2 linked regions of the Homo sapiens genome follow. The protein of the gene in region 1 purifies or fractionates together with the protein of each later gene. This does not show direct contact. Each region holds a gene or a part of one and is shown on either strand. Other genes may lie near its edges.

Region 1 (5,439 bases):
TTTATTTAACACACTATTAAATATTTTCCTAAATATTTACTAAATTCAGACAGATAAAATGTAGTTTACTAGCTTTTAAAGATCTAACAGCCCTATGCATTAACTTCAAAGTACTAATTCAAACACAAATAAATTTGAACAAAGTATTGACTTTTACCATGATTTCTACCCGTAGGATCAGACGATTTTTGGCTGACAAGCTTCTTCTGTGGACTTGGCTTTGATAGTCCTTCGAAGCTTTTAAGAGGCCAGGAATTTGAGAAATTAACAGAATTATCTTGAGACTTCTTTGGAGATATAATAAGAGGAGATGTATGCTTTGGACTAGTTCGAGGTGATGAGACAGGATAGGATGGAAGGATGTAAGCTCCTGGACTTGGATTTTGACCATTTGAGGAAGTACACTCTGTTTGACTACCAAATGTTTGCTGTGTCTTACTGCCAAAATTGAGGCTAGCATACACTGTAATAAAACAAAAGATAATATATTATTTATGTATACACAGTTTAACAGTTAAAAGCTTTTTTGCTTTTTGCTTTTCCCATTCAGGTTTTCATCCCAATTGGCATGTATATTTTTGTATGGTATGAGGTAAAGGACTAATTTAATTTGTGTTATTCAAATATTCTGTATCTTCTAATTCAAAACTTCTTTATCCCATTAAAATATTGTACTAACATTTATAAATTAACTTTCTCCTTGTAATTTTATCAATTACATACATACATGCATGTATATGTATACATATACACACATGTCAGAGAAGTCTTGTTTCTTTAGTGAATTATTCTTTTTCTCATTACAATGATCCTCTCTAGAACTAAAAATGTTTTTAGTTTTGGTGTGCATATTTTCCCTATCATCAACATGTTTCTATTTGCTTTTCTCTGAACATTTGCCTAGTGTATCTTTTCCATGCTTTACTTTCTCTCAACCTATCTTGATGTATTTTAGGTAATGCTCTTAAAAAGATCACTTCAATGAAAAACTAAAAAAACAAGATCTGATCACCTCTGTCATTTAAGTTGTAAGTTCTGCCAATTTATACTTACGGAAACTATTCATACATTTGATTTTAATTCTACCATCTTATTTTGTACTATTTATTATTTTTTTCTTTATTACTTCTTCCTTGCCTTTTATTGATCTTTTTATTCTTCAACGAATATAAAAAGTCTATTTGTAATCTTTTAGGGGTTCCCTTAAGTTTTCCTTTAATATTTTAAAAAATGTTTTCCGTGACAAAATACCTAGCGTACGTATATTAATAAAGCAAACATTCTTCTGAGGACTTAAACAACTGTATATATTATATATCCTTTATTTTTTTAATTCATATCTGACATGGTTAAAATCTCTACTTATACCAAAATCTTATCTAGGTAGAGAGATATAGGAGATTTAGTCACAGATTTACATATAGAATTAAAACTTTCAGTTTCCTCATTTCAATTACAGTGCTCTATTAACAGGTTCTGATGCTTTCATGACAATGTCTCATATATTCCTAGAGATTTAAAAATATTTCCTTTCTATTTTTTTTTGAGATGGAGTCTCGCTCTGTCGCCCAGGCTGGAGTGCAGTGGCACGATCTCAGCTCACTGCAAGCTCTGCCTCCCGGGTTCACACCATTCTCCTGCTTCAGCCTCCCGAGTAGCTGGGATGATAGGTGCCCGCCACCATGTCCGGCTAGTTTTTTTGTAATTTTTAGTAGAGACGGGGTTTCACCGTGTTAGCCAGGATGGTCTCAATCTCTTGACCTCATGATCCACCCACCTTGGCCTCCCAAAGCACTAGGATTACAGGCGTGAGCCACCGCACACAGCCGAGATTTAAAAATATTTCTTATGAAGAAATCAAACATCCTATCATACTATGCATATACATAAAAACAATGCAATGCAACATACACCAAAATTTCCAACACCTGGTGTGGATCACTACAATATGTAAATTGGGATGCAAACATCTATATTGTTTTGCATCCATACCATAGGTCCTTCAAAGATCACAAGGGGAATATTAATTGAGATGGTAGTGGTTTTAATGTATAACCAAGTATTAAGTTAAATTCTAGAAAAACGTGGTATCCCTTTATACCAGCTTCTCTAATAACTATTCCAATAGAAAACCAGAGAGCCACTGTGCAATATGACTAAACACTAAGAGTGGATAGTCCTCAAAGGCAATGTAATTATTCAGGGATAGCCTAAACAGGAACAGGTTAAGTGGCACAGCAAGCTCTCTCTGATTATACCAATTATGAGTCCCAAAGATACTCAGGAGTCAAAATTTAGGAAATACCCACATTATTAAGAAAGATGGATTATTTTGTGATGCAGATAATACCACAAAGGATATCTTTAAGGAGTTATGTGGGTCTTTGGGGTGAGTGCAAAAAAGGGTAGTTAAAATGTTAGTGCTAAATACACGAAATCTTCTCTACTAATTTCAAATCATTATTTTTTCATAAATAAATAAGTATATCCCTATCACTCAAATTTTAGTAAAGGACATACAATAAAATTTAAAATACCTAAAGAAATACTTAATTTGATCCTACCTCTATCTAATAATTGTTAAAGCTGTTAATTAGCATGGACATTTAAGAACACCTTCAACCCCCAAATTCCTGACTGATAACCGGTCTCCAATCTTTCCTCTTCTGTATCTTATGTCTTATCTGAAAGGGTAGCTTTTAGGAAGTTACGGTTCCTAATAAGAGACATAATACATTCTAAATTGTCTTAAAATTTAAAACTGTTACGGAAAATAATTGTCATCTGCTAACACAACACTCTTTAATGGATAATGTTATTTTCAATGACTTGGTATTAAAATGCTCATCTTTCTGATGATTAGTGATGTTGAGCTTTTCATATACCTATTAGACATGTATATGTCTTCTTTGAGAAATGCCTACTCAGATCTTTTGCCCATTTTCACATTGTATTTTTGTTTTTTTGCTATTGAATTGTTTGAGTTCCTTATATATTCTGGTTATTGATCCCTCAACAGTGGAATCGTTTGCAAATATTTTCTCCCATTCTGTAAGCTGTATCTTCACTTTGTTGACTGTTTCCTTTGCCATGCAGAAGCTTTTTAGCTAAATGTGATCCCATTTGTTCATTTTTGCTTTGGTCACCTGTGCTTTTGAGGTCTTACTCAAGAAATCTTTGCCCAGACCAATGTCCTGAAGTATTTCACTAATGTTTTCTTCTAGCAGTTTTATAACGTCAGCTTACATTTAAGTCTTCAATAAATTTTGATTCGATTTTTGCATACAGTGAAAGGTAGAGGTCTAGTGCAAATCAAAACCACAATAAGATATCATGTCACTCCAGTTAAATAGCTTTTATCAAAAAGACAAAAAATAACAAATGGTGGCAAGGATGGCAACAAAAAGGAATGCTTGTACACTGCTGGTGGGAAGCTAAATTAGTACAGCCACTATAGAAAACAGCAAGGAAGTTCCTCAAAACACTAAAAATGTGCTGGGCATGGTGGCTTGCACCTGTAATCCTAGCACTCTGGGAGGCTGAGGCAGGATTGTTTGTACCCAGGAGATCGAGACTAGTCTGGGCAACATAGTAGAACCCCATCTCTGCAAAAAATTTAAAAATTAACCAGACATAGTAGTGTATATCTGTAGTCCCAGCTACTTGGGAGGCTGAGGTAGGAGGATCACTTGAGCCCGGGAGGTCGAGGCTGCAGTGAGCCATTGCACTCCAGCCTGGGCCACAGAGTGAGACCCTGCCTCAAAAAACTAAAAATACAACTACCATATGATCCAGCAATCCCACTGCTGGGCATATATCGAAAGAAGGAAATCAGTATATCAAAGAGGTATTGCACTTCCATGTTTATTGCAGCACTATTCACAATAGCCAAGTTATGGAATCAACCTAAGTGTCCATCGGCAGAAGAACAGATAAAGAAAATGTGGTACATATACACAATGGAGAACTATTGAGCCATATAAAGAATGAAATCCTGTCATTTGCAATAACCTAGATAGAAATGGAGGACATTATCTTAAGTGAAATAAGTCAGGCACAGAAAGACAAATATTGCATGTTCTCACTGCTATGTGGGAGCTAAAAAAGAAAAAAAATTAATTCCATGGAGGTAGAGAGCAGAATGATGGTATCCAGAGGCTGGCAAGGGCAGTGAGAAGTAGGTAATAAAGAGAAGGTAGTTAATGCGTACAAAAATAAAATAAGAGGCCGGGCACAGTGGCTCATGCCTATAATCCCAGTGCTTTGGGAGGCCGAGGCAGGTGGATCACCTGAGGTCAGGAGTTTGAGACCACCCTGATCAATATGGTGAAACTCTGTCTCTACTAAAAATACAAAAATTACCTGGGCGTGGTGGCGTGTACCTGTAGTCCCAGCTAGTCAGGAGGCTGAGACAGGAGAATTGCTCAAAACCCGGGGGCAGGGGCGGAGGTCGCAGTGAGCCGAGATCCTGCCATTACACTCCAGCCTGGGCGACAGAGCAAGACTCCATCTCAAAATAAATAAATAAATAAATAAAATAAAATAAGAAGGAGTAAGATCTAGTGCTCAGTATAGCACAATAAGGTGACTATAGTTAACAATACTTTATTATGTACTTCAAAATAACCACAGGAGTAGATTTGTAATGTTCCCAACACAAAGAAATGACAAATGTTTCAGGTGATGCATATCCTAAATAGCCTAATTTGATCATTACACATTGTATATCAAAATGTCACATGTCCCCCACAAATATGTACCACTATTATGTATATATCAAAGCAAATGCAATACTCATCTCCACCATGAGTATCTAAACTCTAATTTTAATCAGTTGTATTTATATAAAGATTATGAAAACTAATACTTTAGGGTAACAATTATGAAAAAAGTTATTAAAAATATAACAAAATCCTTTTATTTTTTGTGATGAGTATGAGTACACAAAATATCATATAAGTTAGTGTTGGAATCCCCACATAATATTTATAAGTCATTTGTTTCCAAGTAAATTTGGAACTTATACCTTTTTCTTGATGACTGCTAGTTGTCCCTAGGAATTGTAAGTCAGAACCCACACTGCCAGTTTTACCACATATTTGTGAAAATCCAAGTTGTGCACATTTCCCAGAAAGATTTGTTTGATGAGTCCCAGTAGTACCTTTTGAAGAAAGGAAGGGAGAAAACATAAAAGCAAAAGTTAACTTTATTTCATGAATACATTTTATTTCATAAATGTTGGTGTAATTTAGGTGGAAATAAATATAAGTGTTTAAGTACAGTGAGGTAGGCAGGCAAGAAAGGGATACAGCTTTTGATACTAGAAAATCAGATTAGTGGCAGGAATTAAAGGACAGAAGACAGACTAGTAAAGAACAGGGAAAAGACAGGTATGTTGAAGAATATCTGCAAAAGCAGTTTCTTCCTACACTCTTTCTC
Region 2 (3,500 bases), on another chromosome or scaffold:
GTCCCAGCTATTGGGGAAGCTGAGGCAGGAGGATTGGATCACTTGAGCCCAGGAGATCAAGGCTACAGTGAGCTTATGAGCATGCCACTGTACTCCAGCCTGGGCAACAGAGCAAGACCCCATCTCAAAAAAAAACACTAAAAATAGAAATATATATATATATATATATTTACATATATAGTTTTAGCAAAATATACTTCAAATCAACAAAAGTTGATAAATTCTGGCCAATTTCTTTTGTTGTTTTTTGTTTTTTAGAGATGAGGTCTCGCTCTGCTGCCCAGGCTAGTGTGCAGTGGCACGATCATAGTTCATTGTAACTTTGAACTGCTAAGCTCAAGTGATCCTCCATGTTGGCCACCAGAATCACTGGGATTATAACTGCCAGCAACCACACTCAGCTTATTTCAGCTTTTTTTTTTTTTTTTTGAGATGGAGTCTCGCTCTGTCACCTAGGCTGGAGTGCAGTGGCGCGATCTCGGCTCACTGCAAGCTCCACCTCCCGGGGTCATGCCATTCTCCTGCCTCAGCCTCCCGAGTAGCTGAGATTACAGGTGCCCACCACCATGCCCAGCTAATTTTTTTGTATTATTAGTAGAGACAGGGTTTCACTGTGTTAGCCAGGATGGTCTCAATCTCCTGACCTCGTGATCCGCCTGCCTCGGCCTCCCAAAGTGCTGGGATTACAGGTGTGAGCCACCGTCCCGACTTATTTCAGCCATTTTTAATTTGCTAATAGTCACGAAAGATTTTTCCTAGTAAAAATTCTGAACTCAACAGCAAACAAGTTTTCATGTTTAAAACAATCAATCCTCAAAATCCTCTAATCTTCCCTAAATATTCTATGTCTGATAGGAATAAAATGATGAGATAACGCATATATTTTGCTATAGAATTTTGCACAGAATTTAAACAGAAATGTCATTTATCTAGGTTGGGGGCGGTGGCTCACGCCTGTAATCCCAGCACTTTGGGAGTGTGAGGCAGGTGGATCACCTGAGGTCAGGAGTTCGAGACCAGCCTGGCCAATATGGCGAAACCCCGTCTCTACTAAAAATACAAAAATTAGCCAGGCATGGTGGTATATACCTGTAATCCCAACTACCGGGGGACACTGAGGCAGGAGAATCGCTTGAACCAGGCAGGTGGAAGTTGCAGTGAGCCGAGATCATGCCACTGCACTCCAGTCTGGGCAACAGAGTGAGACTCCATCTCAAAAAAAAAAAAAAGAAAGAAAAGAAAAAAAAGAAATGTCATTTATCTAAAAAGAAAAAAAAAACAGTAACATGCCACCTTCACATGGAACTAAGGTTTCCATACCACCTAATAACAATTATTAATTTAACATGTTCATTTACATGTTGTTCTAACCAGGCTTTGAAAGATCTCCCTCTTGAATTTATAGATGCTTATCTTTCTCTTTACTGTAATTATTTAACATTATAAATTATAGAACTGATTTTAACTTACAGTAATCAAAAGTACAAAAAGTACAAATAAAACATACTTTTAAACAACCATAGTAAATATAGCATATGCCATAACTAAAACATAAGATTTATCCGAGATATAAGTACATTTCTAATCATTTCTAAATTTTTCCTGTATCTAATCTGATTAGATTATAATGACTTTAATATTAAAGAGTCAAAGACACTAATGAGCTTTCTCCTGGTAATGATCTCCAGCCAAAGAACACCAGGAAAACTACCACAGTTAAGTTGGATGTACTACTCATTGCATTAAGGAATGCACGGAGAACACACACCATGGGGAACCCTGTGGTATCGTGGTAAGAGGGTATTGGAAAAGACTTATATGTGTTGGGTGATTTGGGGGAAGGCTTAATTTGAGGAAGTGGAGCTTTGCTCAGGATTGAACACTGTTAGAAGTGGGGTTAATTCTATGATGGTACCACTCAATAAATCTAAAATATAGGGGGAGGCTAATGCTGTAACTGGTAAACAAGCAGTAGTCATTCACATCAGCTGGGAAAGGGAATGTTTGGTATCTCGGTTCTTGGACAATATTTACGTTTTGTCTGTGTTTGGAGACACTGATGGAATGTTTTTGTCTTGATCCATCATAGACACAGAGCGGCCTTATCTGATGTTGACATTCTGTACAATAGTTTATCTTCAACAGAAAAACACAAAGTTACTGTGAATGCCAGGCTAGTTTCTAGCAATACCAGTTTCTAGATATCACGGCCACTTTTCTTTTTCTCACTCCTAAAAGCATGTGGTAACTTACAGAAAACATATTTCAACTACACAATTATTCAAGAATTACTTGGTGAATCACAGAGACTGGGTTAATAAATATGGCATAGGTACAATATAGAGTAAGAAAGTTTATAATTTAAGGATTAAGTTGCCAAAAATAAATCAGCTGAAAGAAACCTAAATGAGATTATTTATATATGACACTCTACAATATAAAGTCACTCACAACTTTTTTCAAGACATCATGGCCAAGTATTATTTCTCCAGTAGCTGTGTACATAGTATGTAGATGATAAACAGTTTTCAGGAAAATAGTTTAATTGAAAGAACTGAGTTTGAAATATACTTCTATCACTTATTGATCTCAACATGAATGACCTCAAGCATGTTCCTTAACTGCTCTATGCCTAATCTATAAAACAGAAATATCATTTATTCTAGTATATTATGAAGAAAAAAGAAAATAATGCATATAAAAATTATGACAGAGAACCTAACACTTAGAAATCAACAGATCAGGCCAGGCGCAGTGGCCCATGCCTGTAATCCCAGCACTGTGGGAAGCCAAGGAGAGTGGATCACCTGAGGTTAGGAGTTTGAGACCAGTCTGGCTAACACAGCAAAACCCATCTCCACTAAAAATACAAAAATTAGCCAGGCATGGTGGCACACCTCTGTAGTCCCAGCTACTCAGGAGGCTGAGGCAGGAGAATTGCTTGAACCCAGGAAGCAGAGGCTGTAGTGAGCCCAGATCACGCCACTGTACTACAGCCTCGATGACAGAGCAATACTCTGTCAAAAAAAAAAAAAAAAGAAATCAACAGATCAATTCTTTTATTGTTTATGGTTGTATCTTTACAGTCTTTGCATATATGAAGATTTACCTCTTAAAAACAGAGCCTGCAGCCGCGCGTTGTGGCTCACACCTGTAATCCCAACACTTTGGGAGGCCGAGGCGGGCGGATCACGAGGTCAGGAGATCAAGACCATCCTGGCTAACACGGTGAAACCCCGTCTCTACTAAAAGTACAAAAAATTAGCCAGGCTTGGTGGCAGGCGCCTGTAGTTCCAGCTACTCAGAAGGCTGAGGCAGGAGAATGGAGTGAACCTGGGAGGCAGAGCTTGCAGTGAGCTGAGATCGTGCCACTGCACTCCAGCCTAGGTGACAGAGCGAGACTCTTGTCTCAAAAACCAAAACAAACAAACAAACAAACAAAAAAAACAGAGCCTGCAAACGTAAAGTATGCTGAGATTTAAATAATCAATAATTGATAC

Evidence for each region.
Region 2: the proteins of TOGARAM1 (region 1) and CSPP1 purify together in Homo sapiens (co-immunoprecipitation; one large-scale study listed by IntAct). This does not show direct contact.

Annotation. Positions count from the first base shown.
Region 1 is NC_000014.9:44,999,085-45,004,523, reverse strand, and holds part of TOGARAM1 (TOG array regulator of axonemal microtubules protein 1), read right to left. Parts: intron 5,162-5,439; coding exon 5,027-5,161; intron 464-5,026; coding exon 158-463; intron 1-157. UniProt on the Homo sapiens protein: Involved in ciliogenesis. It is required for appropriate acetylation and polyglutamylation of ciliary microtubules, and regulation of cilium length.
Region 2 is NC_000008.11:67,067,392-67,070,891, reverse strand, and holds part of CSPP1 (centrosome and spindle pole-associated protein 1), read right to left. Parts: intron 2,793-3,500; exon of another isoform or gene 2,088-2,792; coding exon of another isoform or gene 2,035-2,087; intron 1-2,034. UniProt on the Homo sapiens protein: May play a role in cell-cycle-dependent microtubule organization.